3 separate regions of the Homo sapiens genome follow, and all the other regions are linked to region 1. Evidence: fine-mapped expression QTL. A gene starts in region 1. Each other region holds a variant in brackets. All regions are shown on one strand. Distances are between the middles of the regions.

Evidence for each region.
Region 2: its variant is fine-mapped to the expression of EIF4A3 in whole blood (INTERVAL, PIP 0.93).
Region 3: its variant is fine-mapped to the expression of EIF4A3 in tibial artery (GTEx, PIP above 0.99).

Annotation. Positions count from the first base shown.
Region 1 is chr17:80,142,122-80,150,296 of GRCh38, reverse strand. It overlaps EIF4A3 (eukaryotic translation initiation factor 4A3), which reads left to right and starts at 3,169. Exons shown (of 12, transcript NM_014740.4): 1 at 3,169-3,504; 2 at 6,053-6,125. The coding sequence starts at 3,336. RefSeq lists enhancers at 1,088-1,800, 1,801-2,514, 2,515-3,227, 3,228-3,942 and silencers at 2,511-2,700, 3,541-3,590.
Region 2 is chr17:80,103,794-80,111,968 of GRCh38, reverse strand. GAA (alpha glucosidase) reads right to left here. Exons shown (of 20, transcript NM_000152.5): 2 at 6,837-7,414; 3 at 6,075-6,220; 4 at 4,247-4,412; 5 at 4,073-4,169; 6 at 3,560-3,679; 7 at 3,362-3,480; 8 at 3,141-3,272; 9 at 1,914-2,024; 10 at 1,129-1,242; 11 at 944-1,028. The coding sequence starts at 7,382. Among named protein-coding and RNA genes, the nearest start is that of GAA, 6.3 kb to the right of the region's middle. RefSeq lists an enhancer at 1,183-2,158. The variant G/A (reference allele first, on the strand shown) is at 3,547.
Region 3 is chr17:80,067,155-80,075,329 of GRCh38, reverse strand. All of the region lies in intron 10 of CCDC40 (coiled-coil domain 40 molecular ruler complex subunit), which reads right to left. LOC124904074 (a long non-coding RNA gene) reads left to right here and starts at 3,794. Exons shown (of 2, transcript XR_007065931.1): 1 at 3,794-4,098. The variant T/C (reference allele first, on the strand shown) is at 4,463.

The sequences.
Region 1 (8,175 bases):
ATCATTGTCACATTGTCATAGACTCTGGGCTAAAAAGCTACTGCTCCCCAGAAAAGTTAGAGCCCTTTAAGATGTGTGTTCAGACACCTGGCATAAACAACATTTCCAGAAAAATGGTGTAAAATGTTAGATCATCTAGTCATAAAAATATGAAGGAAAACAAATCTAAGCAGTTTGTGGATTAGATTTTAACTTTGAACAAGGTGAGAGGCCTGGTAGCTCACACCTGTGATTCCAGCACTTTGAGAGGCTGAGGTAGGAGGATCGCTTGAGCTCCTGGGCTGGGGCCAGGATGTACGGTCCTCAGTAAGGCTTCTGAATAAAACTAACTTTAATTCTTTAAAAGCTTAACTGTTTTTCTTTAGTCAACAAGGTATTTTACATTCTTCTCCTACGTTAAGTCATTGAAATCTGTGTGTATTTTACGACAAAGCGCTACAGCACGGCCTGGCAAACAGTGTGAGGCACGAAATGATCCTTTGTAGAGTGAGGAAGGTATCAGAACTTACATTTTATTCAGCTTTATAAATATTTAATATTTTGGGTAACACCAGCATCCTTACAAGGAATGTTTATCAGAAGGTCAATTATCTGTCATGGATAAATTCTGGTGCCAGAATGAGATTCACTCTTGGAGAAGGCTGCATTTACTTGTTCACCCTTGAAATACTGCAATCCACCGACTTCTTGATAAAAGGATGCTCTGGTTTTCTGTTTATTTTTGAGATGGAGTCTCTGTCGCCCAGGCTGGAGTGCAGTGGCGCAATCTCGGTTCACTGCAACCTCCACCTCCGGGGTTCAGGAGATTCTCCTGCCTCAGCCTCCAGAGTAGCTGGGACTACAGACACCCGTCACCACGGCCAGCTAATTTTTGTATTTTTTTTTTAGTAGAGATGGGGTTTCACCATTTTGGCCAGGCTGTTCTCGAACTCCTACACTCATGATCCGTCTGCCTCGGCCTCCCAAAGTGCTGGGATTACAGGCGTGAGCCACCAGGCCTGGCCAGGATGCTCTGGTTTTAACTAAAATTAACCTTCATAAAAGGAGAGCTTTTCAAGCACTCCTAGAAAGAAGCTGTGGATTAAAGATGTGCCCAGCGATGCAAGCCAGATTTGTGACCATAAGAAAGGACAGGACCGGGCTCATGCCTGTAATCCCAGCATTTTAGGAGGCTGAAGCGGGCAGATCATGAGGTCAGGAGTTCAAGACCAGCCTGACCAACACGGGGAAACCCCATCTCTACTAAAAATACAAAAATTAGCCGGGCGTGGTGGTGCATGCCTGTAATCCTAGCTACTCAGGAGGGTGAGGAAGGGGAGTCGCTTGAACCGGGAGGCAGAGGTTGCAGTGAGCCAAGATTGCGCCACTGCACTCCAGCCTGGGGAACAGAGCGAGACTCTGTCACACACACACACACACACACACACACACACACACAAAATAGCGGGGCGCGGTGGCTCACGCCTGTAATCCTAGCACTTTGGGAAGCCGAGGTGGGCGGATCATGAGGTCAAGAGATCAAGACCATCCTGGCCAACATGGTGAAACCCGGTCTATACTAAAAATACAGAAAATTAGCTGGGCGTGGTGGCGCGTGTCTGTAGTCCCAGCTATTTGGGAGGCTGAGGCAGGAGAATGGCGTGAACCTGGGCGACAGAACTTGCAGTGAGCTGAGATCGCGACACTGCACTCCAGCCTGGGCGAACCGAGCAAGACTCCGTCAAAAAAAAAAAAAAAAAAAAAAAAAAAAAAGGACAGAGCTGGCGCTCGTGGAAATACAATTTTCCCAAAGTTAAAAACATGATTCTCAACAGCATGAACTGCCCTTCAAAGATGATGGAGCTGCTTCAAAAGGCGTTAGAGGAGCTGGGTACGAAGAAGCACTTAAAGTGTCAGATAAGAAAGCGGTTAGTGGCTGCGCGTGGACACCTGTGGTCCCAGGTGCTCTGGAGGCTGAGGCGGGAGGATCGCCTGTGCTCGGGAGGTGGAGGCTGCAGTGAACCGAGATCGCGCCATGGCACTCCAGCCTGGGCGACAGGGCCAGACTGTCTCAAAACAAACAAACGAACAAACAAAAAGCAGGTTAAGATGCACAACTGGTTAAAGTTCTGCTGGGCAATTAAAAAATGATCCCGTCTGGGTTATCTTTGCTGCAGGACACGCATTAGCAGCACCGTCTACTGACAAGTGGCCTTCATTAAGAGCAAATTGCAGGCTCAGCATGTATTTTATTTATAACAGCTGCTTGCCGGGCACAGTGGCTCATGCCTGTAATCCCAGCACTTTGGGAGGCCAAGGCAGGCGGATCACCTGAGGCCCCGCAGTTCAAGACCAGCCAGGACAACCCTAACCCCCGCCTCCCCCAACCCCGTCTCTACAAAAAAATTTAAAAAATTAGCCGGGCGTGGTGGCGCGCGCCTGAGGTCCCAGCTACTCCAGAGGCTGAGGCGGAGGCTACAATGAACCCTGATCCTACCACTGCACTCCAGCCTGGGCGACGGAGCGAGACCCTGTCTCCAACTCACCAGGCAAACGGTGAAGACACACCCAGGCGCGTCCCCTAAGAGGGACGCCGGCTTCAGGGGCCCTGGCCCTCCCCAGCGCAGACCCGCCGGAGCCCAGCGCCGCGCCGGGGCCCACCACCGGCGGCCGTGAGGGTTTCCACTCGAATCTCCCCGGCGAGCTGGGCGCCTCCACTACGGGTCTGCGACGCAGTCCACCCACTGCGGGCCCGAGAGAGGACCCGTGCTCGTCATTTTTATTCGAGGCGGGGCTATCTGGGGACCCCGCCCGGAGCGGAGGCCCCTCGCGGCCCCAGCCTGTTTCCAGGGAATTCAGGTCCACACGCCGCTCAAAGAACCTCAGCGCCCCAGTCCGCGAAATCCCGCGGCCGGTACGAAACACCGCCAACTTTAGAAGTACCACCCCCTCCATCCCTTTCGTAAGGAACTGGGTGCCCCGCCCTCAACGAGATCCCGCGGGAACTGCATATGGCGCGAGAGCAGAAACACCTTACTTTTCCCTGCGGCAAACGCCCAGTTCCCTTTCACGTGACGAAGAGTGCCCCGTCCCCCAGAGGCGTGGCCGCGTCGCGCGTACGCACGTACGCACGTACGCACGCACGTCTCTCGCTTTCGCATACTTAAGGCGTCTGTTCTCGGCAGCGGCACAGCGAGGTCGGCAGCGGCACAGCGAGGTCGGCAGCGGCACAGCGAGGTCGGCAGCGGCACAGCGAGGTCGGCAGCGGCAGCGAGGTCGGCAGCGGCACAGCGAGGTCGGCAGCGGCAGCGAGGTCGGCAGCGGCGCGCGCTGTGCTCTTCCGCGGACTCTGAATCATGGCGACCACGGCCACGATGGCGACCTCGGGCTCGGCGCGAAAGCGGCTGCTCAAAGAGGAAGACATGACTAAAGTGGAATTCGAGACCAGCGAGGAGGTGGATGTGACCCCCACGTTCGACACCATGGGCCTGCGGGAGGACCTGCTGCGGGGCATCTACGCTTACGGTGAGCGGGCGCGGGCCGCGGGGGCCAGCCGGGGGCGAGTCGGGGGCGAGCCGGGGGCTGAGGGCCAGACTGGTGACTCCCGGGCCGGCCCTGCGCTCCGGAGGTCGTGGTCAGGGTCGAGGCTCGGGGGCCAGTGACGTCCGACCCCCACCCCCACCCCCGTCCTCGCCCTCACGCCTGGCTGTGTCGGCGCTTTCGGTGTGTGTCCCCCGTGCAGAGCTCGGCGCTGGGTCTGTCGGGGGCTGCAGCCGCTTCGAGGCACCTCAGCGTCCTTCATTCAGCAGATAACTGATTTCTACCTATTAGCTTTTCTAGGTACTGGGGTTTTGGCGGTAAACCGGAAGGGTTTGCGCCTTTACGGGTTTTGAATTTCGTTTGGGGGGAAAGCATACTGTCAGGTTGCCCAGGCAACCTGAAGAACCTGAAGCGGGGTAATTGAATAGAGTGGGACTGGGAAGGAGGAGAGAATTAGTAAAGCAGAGAGGTAAGGGGGTTCGCAGGAGGGGGTGCCATTTGAGCAGAGTTCTGGATGAAGGAGACTGTTATGAGAAGAGGGAAGAGCAGTTGGGGCAGAAGGAACAGCTGGTGCCAGGGCCTTGCAGCCCTTAGCCAGCTGCATTCCAGGAACTGAAAGAAGTCCCCTGTGGTGGGATTTTGGAGAGCTAGTCGGGGCAGATCTAGCAAAGACGTGTAGGGTGACGAATAATTTGAATTTCATTTAGAAATCTAGTGGGAAGCCAGTGGAAGGTTTTAAGTAGCTATGTGACACGATCACATTTACAGTTTTAAAGATTCTTCTGGGTGTCTGTAGATTTGAGGTGAGGCGAGGCAAGGCAGGAGAGGAAACAAGAGAGTTGGGAGCTTTTGCTGCAGTTCAGGGAAGAGAGGATTGTGCTGCCTTGGAGATGGAGTACCAGGGAGCTGACAGCATTGGCTGATGGATTGAACGTGAGTGACAGAAGGAGGAGAGTTGGAGTGTTTTGAGTAACCGGTGGTTGATGCTGCAAACATTTGGCTAGGTAGGCAGCACTCCAGAGAGTCAGAATCAGGAGCTGTCTCTTGGTATGTTTGAAAGATGTGAGGAAGTTGAGGGAGAGCCTGGAGAAGAGGTTGGGTTGGGCACATAGATGGGAATGACCAGCATCTGGGATAAATGGCCTGTGTTTAATGCTTGGGACAGGGACATTTTTTATCCTGTAGTTCTCTTCCTTTTCTTTCTTCCTTTTCCTTCTGACAGTCCTGCTCTTGTCACCAAGGCTGGAGTGTAGTGGCATGATCTCAGCTTATTGCAACTTCCACTTCTGGGGCTCAAGCGATTCCTTTGCCTCAGCCTCCCGAGTAGCTGGGATTATAGGTGTGGGCCACCACGTCCTACTAATTTTTGTATTTTTAGTAGGGAGGGGATTTTGCCATGTTGCCCAGGCTGGTCTTGAACTCCTGACCTCAGTGATCCACCAGCCTCAGCCTCCCAAAGTGATGGCATTACAGGTGTGAGCCACCCCACCTGGCCGTATCCTGTAGTTCTTGATGCCACAACAGTTTGGACAAAGTGAAGCGAAGTTGCTGAGGATGCGTGGTGAAAAAGCATCTCAGGCAGCCTCACAGTGAGGCTGACAGCCCCACCTGGTTTCCTGGCACTCAGGCAGTCCCTGCCCTAAGACACTGTTGTTAGTTTCCCATCTATGTGCTTGCTCTTCATGAAGAGTTTAAATCATCTGCTATATTTGCATTTGTGTTAAGATGGGAAATTGTGCTACATTTTCTTTTGTTTCTTATTTTTCGCTATGCCCCAGAACTGAGCAGAGCTACATTTAAGAGACTACCAAAAAATAATTGAAATAGAGTTTTTGTACATAAAATTTTATTTACTTGAAAAACACGTGGTTCTTCTTCAAAATAGCCTCACCCTTTGGTGTAGTAGTTGCTTTGCAAGAGAGATGGTGTGATGGTGTTGTAGTTAGTGAGCTGCATCCAGACAGAACAACATAGGACACCCTGCAGCGTGACCCACGCAGGTTAAACAGAGTTGTAGACCTGTCAGCAACACACAGACTTAATGCTAGCTAGTAGGAGAGAACAATGGCTAGAGTGACTTTCCTGTTTTTTTGTTGTTTTTTTTTTTAATTTAAAAAGTAGTATAGGTTGTTTGTAATCCAGTCAAACCTAAGGGAGTAATTAGAGTAAAAAGTAAGTTTCTTTCCACCCCTCTACTGCAGTAACTGCCAGGAACATTTTGGCACTTACACTTCCAGATGCTGCACACCCAGATTTTTTTTTTTTTTTAAACAAAACTGTTGTCTATATTCTACAATTTGGTGGTTTTTTAAAAATAGAGATTGGTCTTTACAAATAATATCCCACGTTAGTGTAGAAATCACTCAGCCCAATTCATTGAGCCCCTGGGTTTTGAGAGCTTGCTATGTTGAACACTGGGTTAGGCTGGAGGACAGGTTCAAAAAACAAACCATGTCTGCCCCTGAGGAGCTCACAGTACAGGGTTTCTATGCTGTCATTGTGGTGAGGGCTAATTTTTTGTTTTTATTTGCAGGTTTTGAAAAACCATCAGCAATCCAGCAACGAGCAATCAAGCAGATCATCAAAGGGAGAGATGTCATCGCACAGTAAGTTGTCCTGGGGTGCGGCGCAGGGCTGGATGTAAATTTGGGCAGCGCAGTGCAGTTAGATGCTCTGGGATGACTGTTTCCCTCAGCTTGTACACGCTCAGTTCCAACACTTTCCCTGACTTTAGCCACAGGGTTTAATACTTTTTTAAATTTGTGTTCTCTACTGTGGAAAGCTTTCATTTTCTTTTTGAGATGGAGTCTCGCTCTGTTGCCCAGGCTGGAGTGCAGTGGTGCCATCTCGGCTCACTGCAACCTTTGCCTCTCAGTTTCAAGCTATTCTCCTGCCTCACCCTCCCAAGTAGCTGGGATTACAGGCATGCACCACCATGCCCGACTAATTTTCATATTTTTAGTAGAGACGGGGGTTTCACCATGTTGGTCAGGCTGGTCTCAAACTCCTGACCTCAGGTGATCCACCCTCCTTGGCCTCCTAAAGTGCTGGGATTTCAGGCATGAGTTACTGCGCCCGGCCAAGGCTTTCATTTTCTTAGCCAGCTTTGCTTAGTGGTTTGCTGGCATGTGGAATTGTATATAACACAATTTCGGAAAAACAGACTGTGCTTTTCCTCTGCTCTCACACCACCACAACAGTCATCAGCACAGAAGAAGACTTCTGTGAGCAGAGGTGTGGGGCTTTTCCAGCTGGGTGTCCTCCAGTTCAACTCACACCACCTGCCTGGAGATAGGCCATATCCTGCAGGTTGACGGCTCAGTCCCCATGACTACCCTCTTTTCAGACACCAGTTATAAGTTCGGATCTCTAGAACTTCTGACCAAGCAGCTTCAAGTTGGGTTCCCAGGATCCCCTCTTTAGGTTGGATTAATTTGCTGGAACAGCAGCTCAAAGAACTCAGGGAAACACATTTAGTGGTTTATTATAAAGGGTACTGCAGAGGATACAGATATGGGGGGAGGGGTGCAGCCTCCAAGGGGCGGGTGGTCACCTCCCGGAACCTCCTTGTGTTCCACTGTCTGTGTTCAGCCATCTAGAAGCTCTTCGAACCCAGTCCTCTTGGGTTTTTATGGAAAATTCCATGAGGTCAGCATTCTTTCCCCCATAAGGGAATAGGGCAGGAGCTTTTCTGGGATAATACCATAATGCTTTTTAAAAAAAAATTTGAAATTTAAATTTTTTACATTTTTCGAGACAGGGTCTTACTCTGTCTCCCAGACTGGAGTGCAGTCGTGTGATTACAGCTCATAGCAGCCTCAAGCGATCCTCCCACCTCACCCTCCCAAGTAGCTGGGACTACAGGCACACATCACCATGCCCAATTAATTTTTGTATTTTCTGTAGAGACAGGGTTTTGTTGTGTTGCCCAGGCTGCTCTCAAACTCCTGGCAATCTGTCTGCCTTGGCTTCCCAAAGCCTTGGGATTACAGGCGTGAGCCACTGTGCCCGGCCTAAACATTTTTTTTGTTAAGATATGGGGCCTCACTTCGTCACCCAGGCGGGAATGCAGTGGTGCAGTCATAGCTCACTGCAACCTCTAACTTCGAGGATTAAGGAATCGTCCCGCCTCAACCTCCCAAGTAGCTGGGACTGCCAGAATGTGCCACCGTTCCTGGTTAGTTTTTTGTTTTGTTTAGAAATGGGGTCTCTTGCTGTATTGCCCAGGCTGGTCTCGAATTCCTGGCTTCAATTAATGCTGCCTCTGCGTCCCAGAGTGTTGGGAATACAGGCCTGAGCCACCACGCCGTGACATGAGGGTCTTTATGACTCACAATCTGAAAGGCAGGGAAGATTAGAGCCCTGCTGTGGAGCAGGTGAAAGGAGAGCAGAAGGTCAGAGAGATTGTTTCCTGAGGCCTAACCCATCAATTTAATAAGACTGTAATAAGGGCTATGGGAGCTGTGAGCCAGGAACTATGGATGAAAACTTGTATATAGCCATATCTCCTAGCACCACAAATCCTCTTTTAATAGCTTTATTCCTCGTTTGCCTAATTTCAAAAAAGACTCATTTACACAAAAATTTCTTTGGAAGAGAGAGTTAGTCCAAAATCCTAGAAGGAAAAGAGTTGTATTTAGATAAAGGGGAGTCCTC
Region 2 (8,175 bases), 38 kb after region 1:
GGCTGGTTTCCAGGGAGCTTCCTCCCGGCAGGCTCCAAGGTGCCCTCCCTGCCCCCCACCTCCCAGGAGCCCCTGTGCAGGTCGCTGCCTCTTCAGGCTGGCCCTGGAGGTGCACCTGCAGCCGCTCCCCACGCCTCTGTGGGGCTGGCGTTACCCGGGAACCTGGGTAATCATCTCCACTGCTTCTAAGACAGGGCTGGGCGGGTGCTGGAGCCTGGGCTCTGCAGACCCCCAGACTTCACATCCACCGTCTCTTGGCCCATTTCAAGCACTCCCCTGCCTGTTTACCTAAGCCCAAAACCCCATCCTCTCACTGATTCTTTGCTGGGCCAAACTATAGCCTCAGGCCCCCAAACCTTCTCCCAGGCCCATCCTTGTACTTCCTTGTAAAACCCAGTTTCTGCCATTCCTGCTAAGACAGTTTGGCGAGAAGCCCCAACCTCCACCACCCCTCAGGCGATGTCTGGTCACCCTGGCCTGCCTTCAGCAAGAATCCTGCTGGGTCAGTTCAGCCAGAATCCCCCTGACCCCCATGCTTCTTCTTGGTAATTCCTGCCTCTGAGCCCACCCTGCTCCCTGGCTAGAAATCCACTTGCCCGTGCTGCATTCGAGTTGGGCCTGACCTCTCCCCACGGGTGGGTAGGTCTCCGCTGCATGGTCCCTGCGCCTATCGAGACGGCTCTGAGTCGAGTCGGCCTCACTGTGCTCTGGCAAGCACCTGTGAGCGGCGTCTCCTCCGGCAGGGCCTGTGCCTCTGCACCCACCCTGTCTGCACTGCTTGGCTGAGTCTCCCAGCCTGAGCCTTTCTCCTGGGGATCCCCCCCCCGCCCCTTTCCCCGCTGGCCCATCTGCTTCTCAGAGATGAGGGTGCTAAGTCTCCCAGGCCAGACAAGGGAGTCTCTGATTTGATTAAGTCCCCAGGGTAGGTGGGGGGCGAGCTGACCAGGCACGTAGGGTGGGTTCTCCAGCTCATTGTTGGGGCAGCCGTCCTCAGAGCCCCTGATGAAGTTGGAAGGCTCGTTCATGTCCTGCAAGAGAAGCGCTGCTGGTAGGTGACTCTGCCCAGAGTGAGGAGGGTGGGGTAGTCCCCAGAGGCCTTGGGGATGCTCAGGAGGGGGCCACACTTACAATCCACATGCCGTCGAAGGGCACCTGGTCATGGAACTCAGCCACCATGTCCTCCCACCAGGCCAGGGCTGTGGGGTTGGTGAAGTCGGGGAAGGCAGTGGACCCGGGCCATACCTGGACAACGAGAGGCTGCAGTGGGGAGACCCGGCCCCACCCAGGGCCTGCATGGAAGCCCCACTGAGCCTCAGCCTGAGCAGAGGGGCAGCCTCACTCTTAGTGGACGCCCACATTTGCAAATCTGAGAGACCTGCACCCTGGAGGTCAATGAGCAGCTCTTTCTCCACAAGGCACTGATGCGGGGCCAAGGGGCCTCAACCCTGGGAAAACGAGGGGTCACCCCCAACACGTCCACCCAGGGGCTGGGCTGCAGAACCAGAGAGCGTCAGGGAGAAGGGCAGCGGAGACGGCCCCGTGCAAGCCCTGCCAGGCAGCCTCACATCCGCACCAGACCCTCCCTAGCTGCTCCCTCAGCGGGGGCCCTGCCTGGAGGCCCCTGGGGGGCTGGGAGGACAAGGAGGACCCTAAGGCCTCACTGAGGGTCTGCAGGGCTTGTGCCTGGGCCAGGCCCAGCTGCCCATGAAGTCAAAGGCCTGCTGATGGAAGAACTCACGGGGCCATTCCTTGTAGGAGCCACCATCGTCACGGGCCACTGTGGCCCATTCCTCTCAGCTGTCCCACTGGGCGTGATGGCTCCTCAAATCCCACCGTCTTCCTGAGCAGCTGCCGGCTCCCCCTGGCTGGAGGCCTCTGCTTTCTAACCCCCGTCCCCTGGACCCTCGCCCTACCTTCCCAATCAGCGGCTGGCCGGTCTCGTTGGTGATGAAAACCCCCCTCCGCAGACCCTCGTCGTAGGGCCTGTAGCTCCCGGCAGGGCCCGAGCTGCTGATGGCAGGATCCTGGGAAGAGGGAAACCTGTCAAGGTGAGGGTGGCCCAGAGCCCTGGCGCCAGCCACGGGGAAAACTGAGACAGTGAGAGGATGAGGCTGGGGATGACATCATGCGTGTGTACAGCATGCCTGCCTGTGTACCTGCACATGCCTGCACACGCCTGCCTGGAGAGGAGCCAGGGCCGGGCGAGTCAGGACCAGCTGGCTGATGAGGGGCGCGCCGGAATGGAAGCTTTACCTTTACCTTTTCTTTAAACCTCTAGAGTTTCCCAAGTGTTCTACAGTAATCACTTTTCTTTTATAATTAAAAAAATGTGAGAAAGAAAAAAGTCTGTGTTTCCACTCCTGCTCTTAAGGGCTACTACTGTTTGCTGCCTGCAGAAGGCAGGGATGGAAACAGGCAGCATCAGCACAGCCCCACATCTCATCTGTGCTTCCTCTGCTGAAGTGGATCTTCCGGGCAGGAACTGTTGGATCTTTTCAGCTCGCCCTGCCTCCCACCTCCTCCTCTGGCCATCGTGCCGGACACCAGACTCGGGCTGGACCAGCCCCCAAACTGCATCCTTCTGGCTGTGGGACTGGCTCAGGGAAGGGCCTCTTTGTGCTGGGTGACTCAAGAGTCCTGCTTTGGGACTTTTCTATGGGAGCTGATGGGAAGAAGTCTCCGCTCTGTGGTGCCAGCATGAGGGCTGGAAGCTGCCCTCACTCACGCCGTCCTTTCCAGGGATTCAGAGCCGGCCAGAAGGAGAGGCACGGCCAGAAGGCACACGGAGCCTCCACAGTTCCAGCGATACCCATGCCCAGGCCCACCGGGCCCTCCACTTTCCAGGACCAGGTGACATCAGTTTATCATGCCCCTGGCCTTTTGCTTTAAGGCAGTTCAAGTAACCTACATCTGACAGAACCCTGAGTAGCACCCGGCCATTTCTGGGGACCCTCAAACCCGACCTCCCTGGACAGCTGGGGCCAAGCCTGCAAACTTCTTGATATTCCCTCGATATCACAAAGACCCTCAGAAAACATCCTCGGCGACCACACAGGCACGAGGATGACGCTGCACAGAGAAGGAGCCACTGGGCACCGGGCGGCCCCCTTCCCAAAGACCCACAGTGTGGGGGCACACACCACGATCATCATGTAGCGCCGGCCGCCCTGGTGCAGCTCCTGCACCATGGCCGGGAAGTCCCGGAAGCCATCCTTGTTGAACGTGAAGTCCCTCCGGGAGTCCATGTAGTCCAGGTCGTTCCACTGGACGTCCTGCAGCCACAACACGGGACCGTCTGCTGGGGCCTGAGGAGACGCGTCCCGGCCAGCCCCTTGCCTCCCCTGCCACCACCCCAACTCACCAGGGGGAAGTGGGCCCTGGTCATGTTCTCCACCACCTGGCGGGTGATAGCGGTGGAGGAGTAGCCCCAGCGGCACAGGTGGAAGCCCAGGCCCCAGTATGGCGGCATGAACGGGTATCCTGCAGGCCAACGCCGACTTCATGAGGGAGGGAGGAGGGAGCCTTGGGGCGGGGGCCGCGGCCAGG[G/A]AGCAGGCCCTACCCACAACGTCCAGGTACTGCTGCACCACGCTCTTGGGCTCTGGGCCCAGGAAGATGTAGACATCCAGGATCCCACCTGTCGACCTCCAGCTAAGGGCAGGGCTCGGCTGCAGGACCACATCTGGAAGGGAAGCAGCTCTGGGGTTGGGGGACAGATTCTTCACTTGGAGGGCTCTGCACCCCACAGATGGGCCAATCACAGGCGGAGAGTTGAGGCTCTCTCCCCACGAGGAGCTCAGAGTGGCCTGGGGAAGCCGTGCTAAGCCTGACTCAGGAGGAACCTGGCATGGGACGGAAAGATATGTGGTGCCAGCCCACCTCCAGGCAGGGCCCCAGAACCCTCCTTAGGAGCACAGAAGGCCAGAGTTGGGAGAGGCATCAGCCCATAGGACTCATTTCCCAGAAAACACAAGGCCCAGCACCGTGCCCAGGGCCCCTCATGCGGACCTCCAGTCTCCAGGGCAGGCAGCACGGAGGAGACCCCGGCCCGGGCGCTGGGCGGCGGGCAGCTTACCCATGGCATTGCTGTTTAGCAGGAACACCCCGTGTGCCGACCCGCCGTCCTCCAGCGCCAGGTAGAAAGGGTGAGACCCGTAGAGGTTCGCACCGGGCTGGGACATGCAGGAGACGGCGCTTCAGCACCTGCGCTCCCCAGCTCAGTGCCCCCGCCCGCCGCCCGCCGCTGTACCGTGGGCGCAAGGTCCCGGTTCCACAGGGTGATCCTGGTCCAGCTGGTGCTGAGCATCAGGGGACTGAGGTGCTCGGCGAGGCCTGTGATATACTGCGAGGGCAGCGAGGTGGACAGCTGAAGGAACTGGTCCGCAAAGAACAGGGGCGCCACCGTCGTGTTCAGCCTGCGGGACAGAGGCCAGCCAGGCTTGCTCACACCCAAGGGGCCACACGAGCCTGAGAGCACCCAGAGAGCACCCCCGGGCCCTGGTGCCCTGGGAGGGCGGAGTGGCCTGGCCAGCCCTGCAGCACACTGACCCTGGGACAGGCGGCCGTGCCGAGCCCTGCAGCCCTTGGCACCCTGGCACCAGCGTGATCAACTCTCAGGGCATATCAGAAGAGGCGCACCGCCTGGCTGGGCCCACACCACCCCTGAGGGGCCCCCAAGGGGCTGACCTCCAGGAACTGGCTGGTACCGGAACTGGCACACATGCCTGTCCCATGACCCCAAGCAAGGCTGGGCAGGGGCTGAACAGAACCTTTCCAGGCCTAGGAGCTTGTGGCCAAAGTCCTCCCAGATCCCAGCCCAGCCATGCCTGAGAAGGACCCCTGAGGTTTGCTGGGGGTCAAGTGCAAGGCAAACAGCACCTCCGAGAAATGAAAGCCGCAGATAAACCCGGTCCACAGGAAGACGCGTCCTCTGTTAACACAGCACAGCTAATTTCGCAGGACGGGCTCACACCGCACCCACCCTCCCCTGGGCAAGACTACGCTGAGTGCTTTCAAGACCGAGATCTGATAAGATGCCTGTTTGTTGTTTGTTTTTTGAGACGGGGTCTTCAGCAAGGCTGAAGTGCAGTGGCAAAATCATGGTTCACTGCAACCTCGAACCCCTGGGCTCAAGGGATCCTCTTGCCTCAGCCTCCTGAGTAGCTGGGACCACAGGCATGTGCCACAATTCCCAGCTAATTTTTTATTTTTATTTTTTAAGAGATGGGGTCTTGCTATGTTGCCCAGGATGGTCTTGAACTCCTGGGCTCAAGTGACCCTCTCGCCTTGGCCTCCCAAAGTGCTGGAATTGCAGACATGAACCACCATACCTAGCTTGATAAGATGCTTTGAGAAACTTCTCTTGGGTCTCTCTACTCAGAGGTCAGCTCAGAGAGGCCACCCCTGTCCCCTGCATCTGCACAGCTGGTTTCCAGAGTGGCCTCCCCACCCCCCACTCCTGCACAGCTGGCTTCCAGAGAGGCCACCCCTGCCCCCAACATCTGCACAGCTGGCTTCCAGAGAGGCCATCCCTGTCCCCTGCGTCTGCACAGCTGGCTTCTAGAGGGGACCTCCCTGCCCCGTGTCTGCACAGCTGGCTTCTAGCGTGCTCTCTGCATGACCACTCCCTGACGCTGTGTCTGCATGGACTTGCTTATGGCTTCCCCTCACTGTGTGTCTGTCCCCGGGAGCAGGATCCAAACCACCCGGCACGGAGGGTCAGTGCGTGGACACTGAGTAAATGAATGAGCAAAAAAAGAAAAACGCATTTCCGAAGGCAACTTCTCTTAAGATTAAGGCAAATCCAAGTGCTGTCGTTCCTGAGAGTTTTCCTGAGTTAAATGACAAGCAGGGGCTTGGTGAGTCCTGAACACGTGTTTACATGGGATTTAGACCTATGTGAGTAAAAGACCCAGGGAGCGCCCTGTGAGAAATGCCCGTCGCCCTCCCCGCCGTGTGAGAAACAAACATGTGTCGCCCTGCCCATCGTGTGAGAAACAAACGCGTGTGGCCCTCCCTGCCGTGTGAGAAATGCGCGTCGCCCTCCCCATCATGCTGGCACAGAGCCCAGAACTCACAGCACGCGGCCGTCCAGCTGCCGGCGCACGATCACCCCGAAGGGCTCCTCGGAGAACTCCACGCTGTAGAGTGGGGACGGTGCCCGGCTGTGGACATGCGGGGTCTCCAAGGGCACCTCGTAGCGCCTGTTAGCTGGATCTTTGATCTAGAAGAGATGGGGGTTTATTGATGTTCCCCACAGCCACCTTACTCTCCAGAGAACAACCCGCACGCCAAGGACAGGTCAGGTCCTGGTGCAGCCACACATGGATGTGGGACCATGGGCAGCACATTCAGCCTCTCTGAGCCTCGGCTCCCTCATCTGCAGAGCCAGGAGGAGGACGCCTCCCCCAGGATGGAGGTAAAATACAGAACACCTGATAACTCTGAATTTCAGATAAACAACAAGCAGCTTTTCTAGTATAAATACATCCCAAATTTTGCATCCTTACACAAAAAAACAAAGTCATGCCTGGGGTATCTGCAATTCGGGTTTACTGGGCATCCTGTTTTCATTCGCAACCTCTGGCAGCCCTACTCTACCTGACCCACCTTTTCATAAAGATGAATGAGCCCCGAGCCCTGCCTTCTGGAGTACCTGTCACCGTGGTGTCCCCACTGCTCCCCGAGGGGCGCTGCCATTGTCTGCTCACACCTCCGCTCCCAGCAAGGGCCCAGCACACAGTGGTGCAACATGCACCCCACCCTTGTGAGGTGCGTGGGTGTCGATGTCCACGCGCACCCTCTGCCCTGGCCGCCGCCCCCGCCCCTGCCCTGCCCACCGTGAAGTGGAGGCGGTTCTCAGTCTCCATCATCACGTCCAGCCGCAGGGTCAGGATGTCCTTGGGGAAGAAGGTGGGGGTGGTACGGGTCAGGGTGGCCGTGTAGCCCATTTCAGAGGAGCTCAGGTTCTCCAGCTTGTAGCTGGGGTAGCTGGGTGGGAAGAAGCACCAGGGCTGCCCCATCTGGGCTCCCTGCAGCCCCTGCTTTGCAGGGATGTAGCAACAGCCGCGGGCCTCGCACTGTTCCTGGGTGATGGCCTTGTCAGGGGCGCAATCGAAGCGGCTGTTGGGGGGGACGTCGCACTGTGTGGGCACTGCTCTGGGACGGCCGGGGTGTGCCTGGGCATCCCGGGGCCCTGGTCTGCTGGCTCCCTGCTGGTGAGCTGGGTGAGTCTCCTCCAGGACTGGGGAGGAGCCACTCAGCTCTCGGGGAACCAGCAGGAAATCATGGAGTAGGATGTGCCCCAGGAGTGCAGCGGTTGCCAAGGACACGAGGGCGCAGACGGCCAGGAGCCGGTGGGAGCAGGGCGGGTGCCTCACTCCCATGGTTGGAGATGGCCTGGACAGCTCCTACAGGCCTGCGGGAGAAGAAAGCGGGCTCAGCAGGGAGGCGGGAGGGGCGGCACTCACGGGGCTCTCAAAGCAGCTCTGAGACATCAACCGCGGCTGGCACTGCAGCACCCAGGCAGGTGGGGTAAGGTGGCCAGGGTGGGTGTTGCCCTGCTGTCTAGACTGGGGAGAGGGCCAGAAGGAAGGGCGAGAAAAGCTCCAGCAGGGGAGTGCAGAGCACTTGCACAGTCTGCTAAAATGTTACAAATCAAACACGCTTAGAATGTCCCCAGGAAGACCAGCAAGGCAGGTAGACACTTGAAACAGGCCAAACAGCTGTCGCCTGGGCCAGAGTGCTGTGGTGAGATCCTGGCTCACTGCAACCTCCACCTCCCAGACTCAAGCAATCCTCCCACTTCAGCCTCCTGAGTAGCTGGGACTGTAGGCACACACCACCGCACCCAGCTAATTTTCTGTATTTTTGTAGAGACGGGATTTTGCCATGTTACCCAGGCTGGTCTCGAACTCCTGAGCTCAAGTGATCCACCCCCCTTGGCCTTCCGAAGTGCTGGGATTTCAGGAGTGACCACGCCTGGCTGGGAGCCCCACTTCTGCATAAAGGTGCGGCTTGGTCCACTGGGTGTCAGCGGAAGTGATTCTGGCAACTCGTATGTCCTTAGGGGGACCCAGTACCTTTCCTTGCTCCCTTTCCTATTGACTGGTGCACGGACATACCACAGTGGGGAATCCTGGGCACCGCAGCTGAGGGTGACACTCCAGGGGTGGCAAA
Region 3 (8,175 bases), 75 kb after region 1:
CTCCAGCCTGGGCGACAAAAGAGAAGCTCCACCTCAAAAAAAAAAAAAAAAAAAGTAATATTTTGGGCCAGGCACGGTGGCTCATGCCTGTAATCCCAGCACTTTGGGAGGCTGAGGTGGCTCATGCCTGTAATCCCAGCACTTTGGGAGGCTGAGGTGAGCATATCACTTGAGGTTAGGAGTTCAAGACCAGCCTGGCCAACACGGTTGAAACCCCATCTCTACTAAAAATATAAAAAATTAGCCAGGTGTGGTGGTAAGGACCTGTAATCCTAGCTACTCAGAAGTCTGAGGCAAGAGAATTACTGGAATCCGGGAGGCAGAGGCTGCAGTGAGCCAAGATCGTACCATAGCACTCCAGCCCGGGCAACAGAGCAAGACTCCACCTCAAAAAAACCAAGAGTAATATTTTGACCTCCTCTCATGAATCACGAATATCCTTAACGTTATCTAGAATGGTGAGTCTGTTCCAGAAGGTTTTCAACTTACTTTGCTCAGATCCATCAGAGTAATCACTATCTATGACAGCTATAGCTTTACAGACTGTATTACTGCAATAGTAAGACTTGAAAGTTGAAATTACTCCTCAACCCATGGGTTGCAGAATAAATGCTGTGTTACAGGTGTGGAAACAACATTCATCTTGCACAGCTCCAGCTCCATCAAAACTCTTGGGTGACCAGGTACATTTTCTTTCTTTCCTTTTTTCGGTTTTAGAGACAGGCTCTTGCTATGTTGCCCAGGCTGGTCTAGAACTCCTGGCCTCAAGCAATTCTCTCACCTTGCCCTCCCAAAGTGCTGAGATTACTTGAGCTAGCATGCCCACCAGGTGCATTCTCTTTTTTGAGACAGAGTCTCGCTCTGTTGCCCAGGCTGGAGTGCAGTGGCGCGATCTCGGCTCACTGCAACCTCCGCCTCCTGGGTTCAAGTGATTCTCCTGCCTCAGCACCTGCCGCCATGCCTGGATAACTTTTTGTATTTTTAGTAGAGACGGGGTTTCACCGTGTTAGCCAGGATGGTCTTGATCTCCTGACCTCGTGATCCGCCTGCCTGGGCCTTCCAAAGTGCTGGGATTACAGGCGTGAGCCACCGCGCCCGGCCGGAAGGTTTGATCTTCTGTCCATACCACCTGAACTTTCTCCAGACGCGCAATTAGGCTGCTTCCCTTTCTTTTGTGTGTTCATTAGAGCAGCACTTTAAATTTTCTTCAAAAACTTTTCCTTTGTGTTCACAACTTGGCTATCCCTTTGGTGCAAGAGGCCTAGCTTTTGGCTTATCTCAGCTTTTGACATGCCTTCCTCATGAAGCTTAATCATTTCTAACTTTTGATTTAAAGTGAGAGGCGGCCAGGAGCGTTGGCTCACACTTGTAATCCCGGCACTTTGGGAGGCCGAGGCAGGCAGATCATTTGACGTCAGGAGTTCGAGACCAACATGGTGAAACCCTGTCTCTACTAACATACAAAAATTAGCCGGGCACGGTGGCAGGCACCTGCAATCTCAGCCACTCGGGAGGCTGGGGCAGGAGAATCGCTTGAACCCGGGAGGTAGAGGTTGCAATGAGCCAAGATCGTGCCACTGCCCTCCAGCCTGGGGGACAGAGTGTCTCAAAAATAAATAAATAAAATAAAAATAAAGTGAGAGGCATGAGACTCTTCCTTTCACTTGAGCACTTAGTGGCCATTGTAGGCCTAATTTCAATACTGTTGAGTCTTGGAGAATAGGGAGGCCCAAGGAGAGGGACAGAAATGGAAGAACGCCAGCCGGCGAGCAGTCAGTACACACACGACATGTCTTGATTCAGTTTGCTGTCTTAAACAAGGGCAGTTCGTGGCTTTGCCAAAAACCAATTACAATAGTTAACATCAAAGGTCACTCATCACAGATCACCATAACGGACGATGACAATGAAAAAGTTTGAAATATTATGAGAACGACCAACATGTGGTGCAGAGGCAGGAAGTGAGCACGCACCGCTGGAGAGATGGTGCCGGTGGACTTGCTCCACACGGAGCTGCCGTCAACCTTCAATTTGTAAAAAATGCGATTCCTGTAATCCCAGCACTTTGGGAGGCTGAGGCGGGTGGATCATGAGGTCAGGAGATCGAGATCATCCTGGCTAACACAGTGAAACCCCGTCTCTACTAAAAAATACAAAAAATTAGCAGGGCATGGTGGCATGTGCCTGTAATCCCAGCTACTCTGGAGGCTGAAGCAGGAGAATTGCTTGAACCCGGGAGGTGGAGGTTGCAGTGAGCCAAGATCGCCCCACTGCACTCCAGCCTGGGTGACAGAGTGAAACTCATCTCAAAAACAAACAAACAAACAAACAAACAAACAAACAAAAGCGATTCCACGCAGTAGGAGAAAGCGAGGCACACTGAAACGAGATGCGCCTGTATTTACCCGGGAGAAACGGAAACACGTCTCCATGCAAAGATCTTTTCAGGACAGCCACAGCAGCTTTCTTCACGGTATTCCAAAGGTAAAAGCCAAATGTCCATCAGTTGGTGGATGGACAAATACATCTGATGTATCCGTGCAAGGGAATACTATTCAACAATAAAAAGGAACAGACTACTGATCTTGCAACATGGGTGGGTCTCAAAAGCATGATGCCAAGTGGAAGAAGCCAGACAAGAAAAGCTACAGACTGCGCGATTCCATTTATATGACATTCTAGAAATGGCAGAGCTATAGGCACAGAAGGCGGCACAGCGGTTGCCAGGGCTGGAGGTATGCAATTTTGTACATAAATTATCCCCAGTCATCCTGACTTCAAGTAAATAAGTTACTCATTTTCTTTTTTTAGGAAGGAGCAGCCTTATAAATGTCTAAATTTGACAATAAAAATAAGATGCCCAATTTAAAAAGATACAGTTACAAACTGTGCAACAGAACTCCTAACACTCGGGGAAATGTGTGCCTGAGAGTGTGCTGACATGCTAATGAGTCTTCTTGTCACAAAAAGAGAAAGTCGATGGTATTTTTAAATCCTTTTCTCTGTTTTTCAAATGTCCTGTAACGCAATCACTTATCCTTGATAAGGATTATTATTTTTTTAAATCGTACTTTAAAAACTCCGTAGATCAGCAGGCACCAATAGAAAGTACAGGTTCTCCTCAGCTTACGGTGGGGATGCAGCCCGGCAAACCCATCGTAAGTTGAAAATATCCTAAGTCCAAAATGCAGGCTGGTGCCGTGGCTCACGCCTGTAATTCCCAGCACTTTCAGAGGCCAAGTGGGGGCAGATCACCTGAGGCCAGGAGTTCAAGACCAGCCTGGCCAACATGGTGAAACCCCGTCTCTTTTAAAAATACAAAATCAGCCGGGCATGGTGGTGGTGCATGTCTGTAATCCCAGCTACCTGAGAGGCTGAGGCAGGAGAATCACTTGAACCCAGGAGGTGGAGGTTGCAGTGAGCTGAGATCGCACCATTGCACTCCAGCCTGGGCGACAAGAGTGAAACTTCATCTCAAAAAAAAAAAAAAAAAAAAAAGCTGAAAAACCCAAAATGCACTTCCTGCAGATTTCCTGCCAGGCACCCCGGCTCAGCCCAGCCTCCCTCAAACGTGCTCAGGACACTCCCATGAGCCTACAGGTGGGCAAAATCATCTCACACGAAGCCTGTTTGATAATAAAGTGTGGGGCATCCATGTAATTTATTGAATACCGTGCTGAAAACCAGGGAGGTTGTGTGGGACTCAAAGCCCAGTTTCTGTTGCCTGCCTGTTGCTTTAATACCATGGTAAAGTCCAAAAATCGTGACGTCGGGGACTGTCTGTAAATGAAACAAAAAGAACGGATGGAATCTGGAATATGGCCCAGGCATTGGGCACCGTGCCTCTGAGGATTAAGGGGGGGACACAGGAGGTGTCCAGCAGCCTGTGGTCAAGGCCGGGTTCTCTCCCAGGACACTGCCCGTGGCTTTTGTCCTTGGGTCGGCCTGCCTGGCTGCCGTGGCCACAGCTGAGGGCCTGGGAGGAGGCTGTGAGGCCGTGTGGCTGACCGAGTCACATCTTGGGGTAAAGGGGCTGTGGCTGCGGGCCAAGACCTGTCTGCCCTCTGTATTTCCCGCCAGGAAATAGGACAAAGGCAGGTAAGAGCACGGGTGCTTTTGGCTCCAAGTCCCAGGCGTGTGTGAATTCTGATTAGGTTATCTGCCTCCAAGTTAAGTGCGGTCCAGGCTTTGTTTTCTGAAAGTGAAAGTGACCCATTTCCCTGCGTATGTGATGGGAAGGGGCTGACCGTGGGCTCCTCGTGGTTATTCACCTAGCTTTGGGACCCACGTTGGATTGCCTGGACCGCTGCGGTCTTTGAAGGGTTGGTGTGGCAGGCCCGGTCTGGTCTTGAGGGTCACACACGGTTCCTTCAGGACTTCTGGCTGCTGGGGAGGGCAGTGTCCAGCTCCCACAGGCAGGCCCAGATGGACAGGGGGTGTGCCCACAGCCACGGTCATTCCC[T/C]GGTGGGAAGAAGGGACAGGACACCATGAGCTACCACAGCAGTCCTGACAGGCCTCACCCATGCCCCTGTGTCTGGGGACACTTTTTTATTTTTTTGAGACAGGCTCTGGCTCTGTTGCCCAGGCTGGAGTGCAGTGGCACCATCTCGGCTCACTGCAGCCTCGACCTCCTGGGCTCAAGCAATCCTCCCACCCAGCCTCCCGAGTAGGTGGGACTACAGGTCTACAGGTGCACACCACCATGCCCCGCTAATTAAAAATTTTTTGAGAGACAGGGTCTTGCTCTGTTGCCCAGGCTGGAGTGCATTCGTGCAATCACAGTTCACTGCAGCCTCAAATTCCTGGACTCAAGTGATCATCCTGCTTCTGCCTCCCAAGTAGATGAGACCACAGGCACACACCACCACACCTGGCTATTTTTTATATTTTATTTTAGAGACAAGGTCTTACTTTACTATGTTGCCCGGGCTGGTCTTGAACTCCTGGGCTTAAGGGATCCTCTTGCCTCAGTCTCCCAAAGCACTGTGATTACAGGCAGGAGCCACTATGCCCGCCCATGGGGGCACATTTTTAATGGGGTTGTTACTCTGTCTTTGGTCTGTGGCCTCAGGTCTGCTGGGTCACCAGTGTCCTTGGGTATATGGGGCATTGGTGGTGACTGGGACCCACCTGCCAGATCCCCAGGCTAGAAGGAGGCCTGCTGGGGACACTGTGGCAATGCCCACACCCAACCCATCCCACACTGCCTTCCGCTCCTTCCTCCTCCATCAACTGGGGGCAAGGACAGTGTCCCCTTTGAGGGGCTACACCAGACCGAGCTGAGCCTGGGGCTTGTTACCCAGGAAACAGTGAAATCACCCGCTCGTTGCCTAGCTCTAATTCTGCGTTCAGTGTCTTGCTCCATCCTGTCCTCCCTCCCTAGGGCAGGCTCCAGCACTCCATGCCAAGGGGAAGAGCCTTTGAGGAGTCGTCTCTGCCATCATCAGGACTGAGGGAAAAGGAAGTCTAGGAGATTAGGGCAAGCCCTCAGTTTTCTTTTCTTTTCTTTCTTTCTTTTTTTCTCTCTCTCTCTCTGTCTCTCTCTCTCTCTTTTTTTTCTTTTTCTTTCTTATTTTTTTGAGACGAAGTCTCGCTCTGTCACCCAGGCTGGAGTGCAGTGGCACCATCTTGCTTCACCGCCACCTCCACCTCCCGGGTTCAGGCGATTCTCCTGCCTCAGCCTCCTGAGTAGCTGGGACCACAGGTGCCCGCCACCAGGTCTGGCTGTTTTTTTGTATTTTTAGTAGAGACGGGGTTTCACCATGTTAGCCAAGATGGTTTCAATCTCCAGCTCCTGAGCTCGTGATCTGCCCGCCTCGGCCTCCCAAAGAGCTGGGATTACAGGCGTGAGCCACCGCGCCTGACCCCTTCAGCTTCCTCAGGTCGACTTAAACAGGAAACAGAATAACACGTTTCATGTTTCTCCTGAACTTTTATGACCGTGTGCAAAACTCCTGCAAAAATAGGGAAGACAGCAAGAAAAAGCAGCCAAGACAGGCACAGCTTCTGAGCTAAGCTTGCAGCTTGTGTATGAGACACGGGGGCAAGATTATGGTTACCGCCCCCCCCACGCAGCAGCAACCCCCTGACCAAGGACGGGGAAGTCAGTCTGTCTTCAAAGCATTAGGTTGTAGACTCGACATCAGACGAAGAGAGACACAAAGGCATGGGGAAAGAGAAAGGGTGAGGTTTGGCTGGAACCTAATCAAAGGTATTAACTTATCTGAAAAAATGCCATGGGTGTCAGGAGGGAGGAGGGGTGGGGAATGGAATGGAGAAAGCAGCCAAGGTCAGGGTGAGGGCTGCTCGCGGGACACCTCCCGCCCATGTGGACGGACAGGCCATGAACTTCGGGGAAGAAGCAGGAAGCAGACAGGGCCGGGGCCCAGGCATTCCGCCCTCTAGCCGGTCCCTGAGCAGGGGTCTGTGTCATCCGCTCCTGTGTCCTCCCCCACAGATAAGAATCTGCTAGTCCGAGCGTGGAGCATTCGGTTCTTTGGTGTTTATATTTCATCATGCACATAAATGGGCTATTATACTCAGTTACACGTCAGGCTCTGGTGAGCTCGATTCATGTAAACTAACTCCAGGACAAGTGTGCCTTCTCGGTGTGATGGCAAAACCAAGCTTCTGGGCCAGGGGGTCCTGCCCCATGGGGATCTCGCAGGGTGAAGGCTCCAGAAATGCCCAGACAGCCACCAGGGTACCGGCCTGGTATGCACCATCCTGACCATCAGCCAGGAATGTCACCATTTTCTAAGATGCTCTACAAATCTGAACATCTCAAGGTCAATATTTGAGGTATAGTTCAGTCACTGCACTCCTAGCTTGGAAGTCCTAAGCTATGCAATAATTTATTTCTGTAATAATGGCCCTGATCTATTAAACCTGTCTCCAAGTTGCTTCTTCAAATCTATCTGGGTGCAAACAGCAAATCTCTGTAATTACAGTTTATACTTCTCACAATGTTCTACACGGCCTGCACTTTTAAAAGACTGGCCGGGCGCAGTGGCTCCCGCCTGTAATCCCAGCACTTTGGGAGGCCAAGACGGGTGGATCACCTGAGGTAGGGGTTCAAGATCAGCCTGGCCCACATGGTGAAACCCCGTCTCTACTAAAAATACAAAAATTAGCCAGGCGTGGTGGTGCACGCCTGTAATCCCAGCTACTTGGGAGGCTGAGGCAGGAGAATCGCTTGAACCCAGGAGGCGGAGGTCGCAGTGAGCAGAGATGGTGCCACTGCACTCCAGCCTGGGGGACAGAGCGAGACTCCATTGCAAGAACCACAAAAATATAATAAATAAAAGTTGGGCCTCACTCCTCCCCGGGGCCTTGGTGTGGCAAGCTGCAGGTGAAGTCAGAGGCTCTCTCACTCGTTGTGAAGTGTTTGTGCGTGTACATAGTCCACTAAAATATTCACTCAACATTCTGCGCATGCACGTTTTATAAAACAAGATTATCTATTTTCTTCATCAATCGGATTGGCACAGTCCTGAAGTGTGACAACATGCTGAGCTGTCAGGGGACTTTGAAACACCGCTGCCGGGGGCGTGACTGTCACAATCCTACTTAGCAATACCCGCTAGACCCAGACATTCCGGGCTTGATAGGCAATATAAAAAAGGCTATATAGCATCCTGGTGAGCGTTAGCATTCGCGGATCCGGTTATCTACAGCAGCACCGCCATAACAGACGGACGCGAACGCCCTCGATGCCCCGGGCAGGAAGCTTCCCCGTAGAAGTATCCCAGCGGAATGCCATGTGGTAGAAAGGCGGGAACGAGCGGTGTTTATATTTTGACTTGGGAAGCGCTCTAGGGACACGCTGTTAAATGGAAAAAGCAAAGAGGTGCAGAACAGTGAGTGTGGTGTGCTCCCACGGAGCAAGAGAGGGAAGGAAGACTCCGGGTGAACGCATATGCTTTCTTGCAATTGCACACAAGTTAGGCAGGGGATCCCAGAAAACCAGGTGCCTTTGCTTGTCTTGGGAGGGGGTTCTAGTGACTGCGGGCCGAGGAGGAGGAGACCTGATCGAATACGATTTTTACAATGTTTGCAACCAAAAGGAAGCCATGTCTCTGAGGGCAATGAGGACGGTTTGCAGAGAGGACACTGGTTAGTCTGGGATGCAGGGGAGAGCTGGACAACAGGACCATCTCGGAGGTGACGTCTTCC